Regions from separate parts of the Homo sapiens genome. Here all the other regions are reported to be linked to region 3. Evidence: microRNA targets listed by miRTarBase, many of them from high-throughput screens and not tested one by one. Region 3 holds a microRNA gene; each other region holds the end of a gene's coding sequence. Distances are from middle to middle.
The links. The annotated mature microRNA hsa-miR-4720-5p reads CCUGGCAUAUUUGGUAUAACUU and lies in region 3 at 1,519-1,540, opposite strand. An mRNA with a match to its seed (bases 2 to 7 or 8) in the 3' UTR can be bound and repressed. Matches are read on the target gene's strand: a 7mer-m8 pairs with bases 2 to 8, a 7mer-A1 pairs with bases 2 to 7 and ends in A, and an 8mer does both.

Region 1: miRTarBase lists ZNRF2 as a target of hsa-miR-4720-5p. The part of its 3' UTR that is shown has no 7-base or 8-base seed match.
Region 2: miRTarBase lists GINS3 as a target of hsa-miR-4720-5p. Seed matches in the 3' UTR shown: 7mer-m8 at 1,213-1,219.

Annotation. Positions count from the first base shown.
Region 1 is chr7:30,361,555-30,365,912 of GRCh38, reverse strand. It overlaps ZNRF2 (zinc and ring finger 2), which reads right to left. Exons shown (of 5, transcript NM_147128.4): 4 at 3,457-3,536. The coding sequence ends at 3,479. Among named protein-coding and RNA genes, the nearest start is that of LINC01176, 27 kb to the left of the region's middle.
Region 2 is chr16:58,403,991-58,407,990 of GRCh38, forward strand. GINS3 (GINS complex subunit 3) reads left to right here. Exons shown (of 3, transcript NM_022770.4): 3 at 509-2,157. The coding sequence ends at 739. Among named protein-coding and RNA genes, the nearest start is that of GINS3, 14 kb to the left of the region's middle.
Region 3 is chr16:81,382,203-81,386,560 of GRCh38, reverse strand. MIR4720 (microRNA 4720) reads right to left here and starts at 1,543; the gene lies at 1,468-1,543. It overlaps GAN (gigaxonin), which reads right to left. Exons shown (of 11, transcript NM_022041.4): 11 at 1-4,358.

The DNA.
Region 1 (4,358 bases), not on the chromosome of region 3:
AGGATCAATTAAAGTTTAGTCACAAAAAATACATAACAAAGTCATCCCCCTTTCACAATAAGGACTACACGCAAGTAAAGAATGCACACACACGGAGATTTAAAATATTTCTCCCAAATAACTAAAAACCCCAAAATAAGTACAGCAATTTTCTAACTAATCAAGACCACAAATATTCATGTCTCTCTATTTTGGGTTGATTATTAAATTCTTATGCTGAAGGATATCAGAAACGTTGAGCTTTATGGCTACACAGTGCCTTACAAAATGTTTTAACAACACTGAATCCTCCTCAAACCCATATACCTTTAATCTAGGACTATTAAAAGGTATACAAGAATTTATCACTTGATAAATAAGAACAGTCAGGACAGAAGCAAAAATGTACAAGTCAAGATATTCCATGTCTATAAACTCTTAAAAATGACTCTTCAAGACCCACAGAAGCAGACTCCATTGGTTCAGATTTCTGTAGACACCTGATTAACAGAGTTCACCCTGCCCATGTAGTAGGCTAGTTTCAAATTCAGGTTCTATATTCGAAAACAAACAAATAAGCAAATATAACACTCATATGTAACATAAGAAAATGGAAATGTTGTTGAAGACCAACAGACATATGCATTTCAGCTATGAGATGAGATGTATGCTCCACATATCCCATAAGCTCACTGTGACACTAAAGGAAAAATTTAGCTGATGAAAGAAAAAAAATTTATACAATATAATTCCACCTCACCAAAAAAAAAAAAAAAAAAAAAAAAAGCTTATCAGCTCTATGGTCTAAATGTTTGTGTACTCCCAAAATTGCTATGTTAAAACCTAATCTGCAGTGCTATAGTATTAAGAGGTGGGGCCTTTGGGACATGATTAGGTGATGAGGGCTCTGACCACATGAATGCAGTTAGTATCCTTATAGAAGCTTGAGGGAGTCTGTTATCCCACCACGTGAGGACACACAGAAGGTGCCATAAATGAGCAATGAGCCCTCATCAGACACCAGATCTACTGGCTGGAACCTTGATCTTAGACTTCCCAGCTTCCAGAACTGTGAGCACTAAATTTCTGTCATGTATAAATTACTCATCTAAGGTATTTTGTTATAGCAGCCCAAAATGCACTAAGAAAGACTAAAAAGACAAATTTTATCTATAGATGAAGGATTTAGATGTATTACTTTGGCATGTAAAATACTAAGACAAAAATTTCATTTTGTTAGCATCAGTTTCAGTACTTCCCTTAAAATGCTTCTATAATTTTAGCCACAGTTTCGTTTTGTCTCAAACATAAGGTGACAATGAAGGCATTCCAAACCTTTTCTATGGTGAAATAAAAACATATGTGCACATATATTCAAAATACCACTCCACCACTATACTTCTCTTACCTAGCATTCTTACTTCCATTCACATTTTATTTATTTATTTATTTAGACAGGGACTTGCTAAGTCACCCAGGCAGGAGTGCACTGGTGTGTTCATAGCTCACTGCAGCCTCAAACTCCTTATCTCAAGCAATTAGTGTTCAGCCTCAATTCATATTTTAAATGTGTCAAGGCATGATCTAAGTAAGTTCACAGGAAAGGTTAAAATTGGCAGTCTTTTAGTACTCTGCAGTCTACCAAGGCTTCCACATTTCACATGCACATGCGTAGTCTTATGACACTCAACTGCAGTTCTCATTTCAGGTGCTATTGCTGCTATTATCTCAAATCTTCTCTGTCAATATTCTAATCTGCTACTCTTAAATCATCTTCCACCAATACAGCAACAGAATTCCTTGAGGGTGTTTATTACCTCAACACTTTTATTCTCAAATTTAAGAGAAGTTATTGAAATAAAAGGAAATGGTACCACACAGGACTAGACCTCTGGACGTCATCTGGTCTAGTTCCTTGCCATCAGTCTCAGCCTCCTAGAAAAGCCGGCTGTTACTGTCTTGAGTCCCTGAACAAAGAGACTCTCACTCCTGAAACAATTCTAGGATTAGCTAAAATGCTCTGCCTTGATATAACAATCCAATGCTTTATATCATCTCTCCAAGTCTTTTCATAAAAGCTTTTCATATATTTGAAGATAGCAATTAAGTTAACCTTTATTTTTTCAAAGCTAAATGATGTCAATTTAATGCACTTGTGAAATGTGAAAAAAAAAAGCCCTATGAAAATACCCAATTGAGGTCAGCATTCAATTCACTAAACATTTTCAGATAATGCAGAACCATGAAAAACTTAAATCAGTAGAACAAAACTAGTTTTTTTTTCAGTCGTAAAATGCAACTTTATTTTTTGCCTACTATATAGACAGGCACTGTATTACATGCTAAAGATATAAAAGTGAATGATTAAATTGAATGAATAAATTTATGATGCGACTGTTTGAAGAAAATGTTCCTACCTAAAAAGAGCAAAATTGCTAAGAACAGTCTTTGGAACCAGAATACCTGGGTTCAAATTTCATCCCCACCAACAAACTAGTTATCTGAACTTGAAAAGTCAAGTTTCTTAACCTCTCTATACTTAATTTCTTCATCTGCGTAATAGGAACAGTAATGGTACTGAGCTCAAAACGGTTATTGTAACAATTAGACAAGTTACTAATAGATGTAAAATGCTTACAACAACACCTGGCACATGATAATACTAAATGATTAGAATTATTATTTTTTGGTTTGGTTGTTTTTGAGACAGTCTTGCTCTGTCACCCAGGCTGGAGTGCAGTGGCATGATCTCGGCTCACTGCAACCTCCACTTCCTGGGTTCAAGTGATTCTCTTTTGTTTTTTGTTTTTTTTGAGAAGGAGACTCGCTCTGTCGCCCAGGCTAGAGTGCAGTGGCACGATCTCAGCTCACCGCCAACTCCACCTCCTGGGTTCACACCATTCTCCTGCCTCAGCCTCCCAAGCAGCTGGGACTACAGGCACCCGCCACCAGGCCTGGCTAATTTTTTTTTGTATTTTCAGTAGAGACGGGGTTTCACCGTGTTAGCCAGGGATGGTCTCAATCTCCTGACCTCGTGACCCGCCCGCCTCGGCTTCCCAAAGTGCTGGGATTACAGGTGTGAGCCACCATGCCCAGCCTCAAGTGATTCTTGTACCTCAGCCTCCCGAGTAGCTCGGATTACAGGTGTGCACCACCAAGCCTGGCTAATTTTTGTATTTTTAGTAGAGACAGAGTTTCACCATGTTGGCCAGGCTGGTCTTGAACTTTTGGCCTCAAGTGATCCACCTGCCTGAGGCCTCCCAAAGTGCTGGGATTACAGGCGCGAGCCAGCATACCCAGCCAACAATTAGAATTATACAATATTTTTAATGTAAGTTTTCTATGCAGTAGCCTAAGTGTCTGAAACATACACATACACACTCATGCACCTCAATGAGTAAATGAATAAATAAAAATTATAGTTTAGAATGTATAATTTGGGCTAACGCTTTAAAAAGTAATTACAAAAAAAATTACCTATAAAACAGGAAGCTGACGCTTAATCTGAAGGGTGCTCAGGGCAAGATCTATTTACTTCAAACCATTCATCTATGCAGCTAGAAAGGAACAAAACCAGAAAAATTGAGATACTTATACTAATTATTTATATAATGAGAGCCACAGTAAAAATACTTGACTTTAATATATTTTTTACAGAAAAAAATGAGCATTTTAAATTATATTTGGCATACATAAGCAACAGATAAGAATGTTTATTATATTTTGATTCTAAGCGATTAAGAAAAAAACCTTTGCAAAATTATGCTATAAAGTACTTTAAAGTTCAAACAGAACTACTTCCAAAAGATAATCTGAACTACCACTTTACCAATATTCAAAACTGAATAACAAATTTGCATAATTTTTCTTTTCAAAACAGTTATTCATTTATGCACATTATCAACCTGTTCATGTCACCTATAAATGTATTAAAAAACGGCTTTTAAATTTTAATCCTTGCCAATATTTCATTTTTAAAGCTATATTTATATGTGATTATTGAATATTTAAATCCTATCCCACCATGTAATACATATACATACACAAATAAATATACATTAATCATTTGTATTTAGGAAGTATTTTATGATCTTATTTTATTAGAAGCTAAATATTAGGGTGCATATGATCATCGTCATTGTGGATCTGCACTGTCCAACAGAGTAGACAAGAGCCACACACTGGTTATTTAAGATTTATTGAAATAAAATAAAAAAATCCAGTTCCTCAGTCACACTAGCCACATTTCAAGCACTCAACAGCAACATGGCTCACGACTACTCTAGGGGACAGCATAGATATAGAACATTTCCATTATGGTAGAAAGTTCTATTTCACAGTACCATGATAGGTGAAAAAATCAAGGTCTACTAACTAGC
Region 2 (4,000 bases), 23 Mb from region 3:
GTGGTAAAACTATGTAATGCCGTGTAATAAACAATAACTCATATTGTTATTACTTTTCCAGGACAAAACAATGTTATACATCTGTTCCCAACCTTTATGGTATAACCTTATTTTAATTTTTCATAATTACTTTTTTATTCTGTTACTGTTAGAAGAAACCATCATTTCTTCCTCTTGGGACAGAAGCATTTGCTACTAATGACAATAATAGGTGATGCTTCTCAAGGAGCTTGCTGTGTGCTAGCCATTTGCTAGGTGCATTACATGTATTCATTGGTTTTCTTAACAACTTACTGGATTTTCATAACAATCCACTTCACAGATGAGGAAATTGAGGCATGGCAATGTGCAATAACTTACTTGGGTGCTAGAGGGAATTCAGACCTCCTTCTGAGTCCTACACATCATTCTTTCTTTTCATGCCATTTAAATGTTCTGAGATAAAAATGGATATGACTTTGTGGGGTGTGAGGTCAACCCTGACTTGTCTTACTCCCTTGTTTCCCAGACTTTTATCGGACGTTTTCGCCGCATCATGGACTCCTCACAGAATGCTTACAACGAAGACACTTCAGCCCTGGTAGCCAGGCTAGACGAGATGGAGAGGGGCTTATTTCAAACAGGGCAGAAAGGACTGAATGACTTTCAGTGTTGGGAGAAGGGGCAGGCTTCTCAGATCACAGCTTCCAACCTCGTTCAGAATTACAAGAAGAGAAAATTCACTGATATGGAAGACTGAAAGCCGGAAGAACACAGAATGGCTCCTCACAGACGTATCCCTCCGTGTGTCCTTGATAGGAGCTGGTTGACCTTGTACAGAACCAGAATCCTGTCCCATTTCATGGCTTATTTCCTGTGGCCATAGAGAATTATAGGGAACTGGACATGCTGGAGGATGTGGGTGTCCCTGGCTCTGTGAGTCTTCCAGGACCGTCCCACCCTGCTGACCCACAGCCCAGGCCCTTTAACCCAAGAACCCATGGCCAAGGAGAAATCAAAGTCCTTCCTAAATAAGAATCACTGCCATATAATATATCACAGTAGAGTTGCAACTGAGATTCCTTGTGTCTGGGAGTTTGGACAGCTTCAGATGTACAGTTTCACTAGCCACAAAGCACAGGTACAAACTGGGTCATCGCCTGTTCACAAAATGCTCTCTTGATCTTATTTGCCTCATCTTCCTCATGGTTGTACAGAGGATAGCACCCCACCATGCCAGCCTGACTTGGAGATATCTCCTGCTGCCTGCCTGCAGGGAGTTACCCCAGTTTCCAAAAACAGTCGCCCAGATAAAGGAGGAAAAGGGAAAGGCAGACGAATGGCATGGCTTTTACTAAAGAAAAGATGTTGGCCTCATACTCTATACTCAGGGCTTAATGAACTGGAATCTGCATAACTCAGCAGTCAACCCAGAAGGGAAATGGTTAAACTGAGCTTGTTATTGCCTCGGAGAGCCTAAGAGCACCCGCACACTTAATTCTACTCCCTGTCTAGAAAAGCTGTCAGGGAGTCGTTTGGAATTGCAATGTAGTTATTAAGGGCTGTTAACCAGCCTGCATTACATCTGGAAGTCAGGACTTGGGTGCTGACTATGAAGGGCCCTGTTTTCAAAATCTAACATTGCAAGTGTAAATGGGCAAGAAGCCTCCGTTGTGCTTTTTTTTTCCTCTTCAGTAACTTTTGCAACATTATTGCATAGAAGATCCCTGACCATTTACTAGGAACCTGGTTAAGCAAGCACTAATCTCTTTTCCTGGAGATCAAGGATGCAACCTCAGGTTGAGAAAGAAACAGGGTTCCCTGGGCCCATTAGACTGTTTGCAGGGCATCACTGCTTCCCCCTGACACCTCACAACTAGCAAAAATTGTCTTTGTCTTTGGAAATTATAGAGGGATTTGGGTATCCAGATTGTGCAGATGCAAACTTAGGCTGTCTTGATGCAAACTTAGAACCACAGAAATGCTTTTAAAATGCCTGTTTTAAGATGGAATTGTTGTTTTTATAATTTGATTTTAGTGCTAAATAAATGATTGGCTTTGTACATGAATATGTTCTGTACAAGTGCTCTTTCACTAGTACTACAGATAATCAAAGCTATCAGAATTGTGTCTTTGATCATATTTGACGGTAATACACAAATCCATGTTTTAGCAGCTGCTCTTTTGCTTGTGTGGTACACATAAATAGGAGGTACATTCTCTGTAGGAGGGTGCTGTGTCCTAGGAAGATGAGATTTCCATTACTACCGCAGCATTTATATATAGCCAGGGCCCGAGAAACCATTCATAGAGCGAGAAAAGCATATTATTTAACTTTTGGCATCATTCTTTTCACACATAGCTTTATATTTAAAGTCAACTCTAAGTCTGCTGCCATTTTTTCCTACTTCCTAAAAAAAAGAAATTCCTCAGGGGCCATGTGTCAGGAATATGTAGGTATTCATGTCCAAAACTTAGCCCCTATTTTACATTTTGAACAGATTATATTACATGTAGCTTTTGAACTCATTTTCAATTACAGATCTGCCTTCAAGCCTGTCGGACTTCCCCTCTCCCCAGCAGCCCTCCAGTTAGTCGTTTAGATTTTGATTTGGTCCCTTCAAGAGGTTAATTTTTCAAAAAACACAACAAATGGGCTCAAATACCAAATTGCTATCAAACTCCAGGGAGTAAAGCTGTGCCCTTTCCCCTGAAGCACTCTGTTCCCACATGACTGTGGCCTTACAGACAGAAGACCTCAGTATATATAGGTTTTTCCCAGGGACAGTGTGGGCTGCCAGGAGCAGTGGGGCAAGGCTCTGTCACTGTTGATTCCTCCTGCTGTTCGTGACCTCTGGATTTGGGTGGCTCTGGGCTGTCCATGCCTCTCCATCTCCACGCAGATGGCTCCCAAATTCCTATCTCCAGCTCAGATCGCTCCCTCCAACTCCAGACTTGTATCCAATCCCCTGCTTGATGTTTCTACGTCTCCACGGCCTGCTCCTCCTCTGATGTTTCCCATCTCCATTTTTTACAACTCCATCCTTCCCTATTGCTTAGAACAAAAACGCTATGTCCCCCCCTGACCTTCCTCCTCTCACGCTCCATATCTTTTGGGTCTGCCGTCAAATCATTTGCAGCATCCGGCCACCTCCCCATCACCTGTGGTGCTGTCACTCGGGCCAGGCCCCTACCGTTTCTTTCCTGGAGTTTTGGGATCACCCCCTAACTGCCTCCCTGCATTCACCCTCCACTCCATCTTCAGACTCTTCTCACCATAGCAGCCAGAGTGCTCTTGTTAAGAAGTATATCCAATCTTGTCGATTCTCTGCTCAAGACCCTCCCATCTCAGAGAAAAAGGATAGTCAGTTATCCCAGCACACTTTGTTAAAAACTAATCTTTGGGCCCGGTGCGGTGGCTCATGCCTGTAATCCCAGCACTTCGGGAGGTCGAGGCAGGTGGATAACTTGAGGTCAGAAGTTTGAGACCAGAAGGGCCAACAGTGAAACCTGTCTCTACTGGAAATACAAAAATTAACCAGGCATGATGGTGGGCGCCTGTAATCCCAGCTACTCGGGAGGCTGAGGCAGGAAATCACTTGAACCCAGGGGACAGAGGTTGCAGTGAGCTGAGATCACACCTCTGCACTCCAGCCTTGGTGACAGAGCAAGACTCTGTCTCAAAAAAAAAAAAAAAAAGTCATCTTTACCCTGCTAATCTGATGTTGAATTTCTTTATTGCTTGCATGGCAGAAATAATTTGTTTCTTATTTTAAATAAAAAGTCCACCTTCTCCCTAAGAATTCTGAGCATCTTACAGAGCTTCTCACTAACCTCTCAGCACCTCTGAACCCGAGGTTTCTGGAATACTGTGCCTGAACTAGTGAAACCGGCATGCAGAAGCACTGAGTGACTCAAGTTCAAACAGCAGTCAGTTCCACTCTGTGTCTGTCTGTTCTGTCCCCCTCCCATCCTTCAAGAAACCCCAAGAGAGCTTTTTTTTTTTTTTTTTGAGATGGAG
Region 3 (4,358 bases):
TCATAACCTAACCAGGAAAAGAAGTGTATGATACCATAGAAGGATTAAGTAGTTCACTGTTTGTACCACTTTGTTAAATAACCTTCTTTATGCAAAGGTACAAAAGTTCCACACACACAGACACATGCACAAACACACATGCACGTACACACAAGTACTTGTAACACATATTTGTTTGTTTTTAAGTTTCATGTAACATCCAAGTTAAGAAAGCACAGTTAGGTCTACTGGTCTAAAACAGAGATCTAGGAATTATCTCGTTTCTTTGACCAATACAGATTACTACCTTTGCTATTTCAATGAAAAAAAAGGAAAATTCAACTTTAGTAAAGAGTTTTAAGTATTATTAGAGAATTTCACTGGGCAAATTCTAAACAGAGGGTTATTTATAACAAACTCTAAGTATTCTAAACACATATTTTGGGCTGTTTCAGCTATCTAGAATTGTGTTGAATTTAAATACTAGAGATGTAGATGGAGAGAGGTGATATGGGTCTAGAAAGCAAATCATTTTCTGGCTGGATGCTCACACCTGTAATCCCAGCACTTTGGGAGGTTGAGGCAGGCGGATTGCCTGAGCTCAGGAGCTCGAGACCAGCCTGGGCAATATGGTGAAACCACACCTGTTCTAAAAATACAAAAAATTAGCTGGGCATACTGGTGTGCACTTGTAGTCCCAGCTACTTGGCAGGCCGAGGCAGGAGGATCCCTTGAGCCTGGGAGATGGCGCCACTGCACTCCAGCCTGGGTGACGGAGCGAGACTCCATCTCAAAAAAAAAAAAAAAAAAAAGTATTTTATGAACACCAACTTCTAATACATTTACTTGTATATCATGTGGCAGCAGACGTGAGAATGTGGAAAGCTATAAGGCCTGGGACACTCAGTGCAGGCAGCCTTGGCCTCATCCACAGGGCCTCCCACCACCCCATGTTGAGAGGTGACATAATCATGGTGGCAGCAACAGTGGTCACTGCACACAAGGCACTCTCCCAGCTGCTTACAGTCATCACCCAGTTAATCCTCACAACAACCCGCAGAGGTGAGTCCTCCTGCTATTCTTCTTCCACATAAGAAACGGAGCCTTGGGAGCCTTAAGAGCTTCCCAAGTCACAGAGTAGTAAGTGTGGCAGAAGCCCCCAAGCCCAGATGCACCTGCCACCAAGGCCTATGCTCTCAACCACTGGGTTTGTAAGGAAAGTATATAAAGATGATTGCCTGAAAATAATTAAAATAACAAAGTTTGGGGTTTAAGTTAAAGGAATAAGCCTTTGTTCTCATGGAAATCACTTCCAGGAAATGTCTCATGTCCTGAGCTAAGTCAGTCTCATGTCCTGAGCTAAGTCAACAGGGTGCTAACAGATTGTCATTGGAGGAGAAGCTTTGTCATTCTACTATTGAAAGCAAGCCCTTTACTCTGAAAAGCACAAGCATAAAAATTAAATCTTATTAATACACAACGACAGTTAAACTTGGCTATACTTGGTACAACTTAAGCACCAGATTTTACCTGGTGCTTAAGTTATACCAAATATGCCAGGCTTTTAGAAATGGGCATAACTCTTTTGGCCACGGCATCACTGAACTCCTCCATTTAAGTAGAATGTGTACAACTGTGCCCTGAAACTGGGCCATTATTACAAGATCTCCCGAGAGGAAGAGTCTTGCCTACAACTGGTGAGCCTCCTCATCTTCTTCCTCCTGACTTGGTGACCAGGCAAGCTGACAGACACTAGGGAGGATGGAGGCGACCACGTGTGGAGTGCAGAAGGCGCATACCGGAGGAAGGTGAGGGATGTTCCACAGATACATGGAACAAATCACATCATTCATGATTTTCAGTATCATCCAACTCTATATAGTTCTGCCAACCTCAACTCTGCACTGAGGAAACACTTTAAGTGAGGAGGATCTTAGCAATGAGTAGATTTTCATCAAAATTAAAGATTTCTGGGAAACAATAGCACCTTATAAGAAATGAAAAAAATAGTATCCTCAAGCACCCAAATCCCAAATACTGGGTCAGATGACAGATAGACACATTTTCTTGTCTGATGCTAACAAGAATGGAAATCGAGCCCCCTGTTTTACACAGCAGTGGCGTTTAAATAGACTACTTTTCTGCATTATGAAAACAGCCTTTTAAAGACTCTTTAAAGTTCAAGTTGAGTTTCAAGTAATCAGTTTGCAGCAACTCTAGGAGAATTATTATTCCTCCTGGTTGTAAGTGCTTTTTTTTCTTTTCTTTTTTTTTTTTTTTTAAGTAGTAAAATGGAAAACAGGCCTTAGAGAATTGTATTCCTCAAGGCCTCTGACTGCCTGCTTCCAAGCTTTTGTTAAAGAACAGAATGTGTTGAATTCTTCTCAATTGGCAGGGGATCAAGCACAATACTACATAATGAGGTAGCTGAGAACAGAGTTTTTCCTATAAACACAAAGAACAACTGAATAAGTGCATGTAATTCTCATCCAATTAAACAGGAAACATGATAAAGCAAGTTAGTACAGTTGTATTTAAACCAAGTTGACTGGTATAACTTGAAAAAATTTAACCCAAGTTTCTAAGGTATGCCTTATTCATAACTGATGAGTAAAAACAATAAAAATAAGGTACCCAAACCTATTACTTGTAATGAAATGCTAAAAATAAGATCCTAATAAATATAATTCACCAACCAGAAGACAGATGAACCTCCGTTTGGGATGTGAATGATTTGAAATGGCCGTTCATTTACGTGGATCCTATTCAGTGTCTACTCGTTCACTTCATCTTAAGGCCGTGTGTCCCCCGGACTCTGTGTGTTGCCATCCTTTTCCACCTGTTCCTTCTCTAATTCATATCACGACTGTACAATTTCTGGTTTTCTTTCAATGTGTGCACAGAAGGAAGCTCAACAACTTTGTTGAGCCAGGAAGAAATTATTATCAACATTTATAATCAGGCCAAATTTCAGCTGAGTAGTGACTTTAAAAGAATTAGTTTTAATCTCAAAATAAAAAAAAAAAAAGAGGGCAGGCGAGGTGGCTCACACCTGTAATCCAGCACTTTGGGAGGCTGAGGCGGGCGGATCACGAAGTTTAGGAGATCGAGACCATGCTGGCTAACATGGTGAAACCCCGTCTCTACTAAAAACACAAAAAATTCGCCGAGTGTGGTAATAAGCACCTGTAATCCCAGGTACTGGGGAGGCTGAGGCAGGATGATTGCTTGAACCCAGGAGGCGGAGATTGCAGTGAGCCGAGATCGCACCACTGCACTCCAGCCTAGGCGACAGAGCGAGACTCCGTCTCAAAAAAAAAAAAAAAAAAAAAAAAAAAAGAGAGGGCAACAGTCATTTCTGACTAAATAATTATATAATGTAGTTTTATTTATTTGATGTTTAATTTCATGAAAAGGGGAAGGGGTTTAAAAATCCAATCACTTAGAGAATTTCAATGACAGAACTGAAAAAGAACAAACTTTCTACGGAGCGTGGTGGCTCATGCCTGTAGTCCCAGCTGGGTCTCCACATCTGAGGCCAGGAGTTTAAGATCAGCCTGGGCAACAGAGCAAAACCCAGTTTCTAAAAGAAATTTAAAAAAATAAAATAAAATAAAAAAGAATAAACTTTCCTAAACTGTATACATTAGACCAAACCATCTGGAAGTATGATTTAATTCCTCAGATGTCACATAAATGGAACTATTACAATGAGACAATATTGAAATATGTTTAAAATGGAAATAATAATAGGGTTCCTTCTGAAAAACACAAAACTTTACCAAGTTTTACCAGCTAACTTGCAAAAAATATAGAAAATGCCTAGCAGTCAATACCACTGAGACTTAACTGCCAGCAGGCATGACAGACACTCAATCCAAGTCTGTGTTATCAAATATGGGCAAATGGGCCCCTTCTCATCCTTATACTATGAATTTCTGTAATTTCTCAAAACTACAGACAGAGTAAAGAGTATTTCAAGAATTATTAAAAGCTATCAAAATACTTTCCTCAACATTCTAAGACATAGTTTATTTTCCCTTACTAATTACATGGAATAAGAGAGGGAAGTATACATGAAGCTCTTTGAAATAAAAAAACAGTTTCTCTTTCAAAGAAACTTTCTTCTGTTCTTACGACCTTAGTAAATAAATTCTTAACCTTCCTATAGCTAACTAACAAAGAAAATCAAAGATCTTTCAGCTTATGCCTGTGCAACTAGCAAAGGACATGTTTGGGAGCGTAAATTGTATTAATACTAAAAATGATTATTCTATTACTAAAAATACTTGTATGCCTAGAAAAATCAAGTTCCAGCCTCACTGGCTGACTGGTGAGCTGATAATCCAAAGACCTGGCTTCTGCTTTTGGTTCTTGCT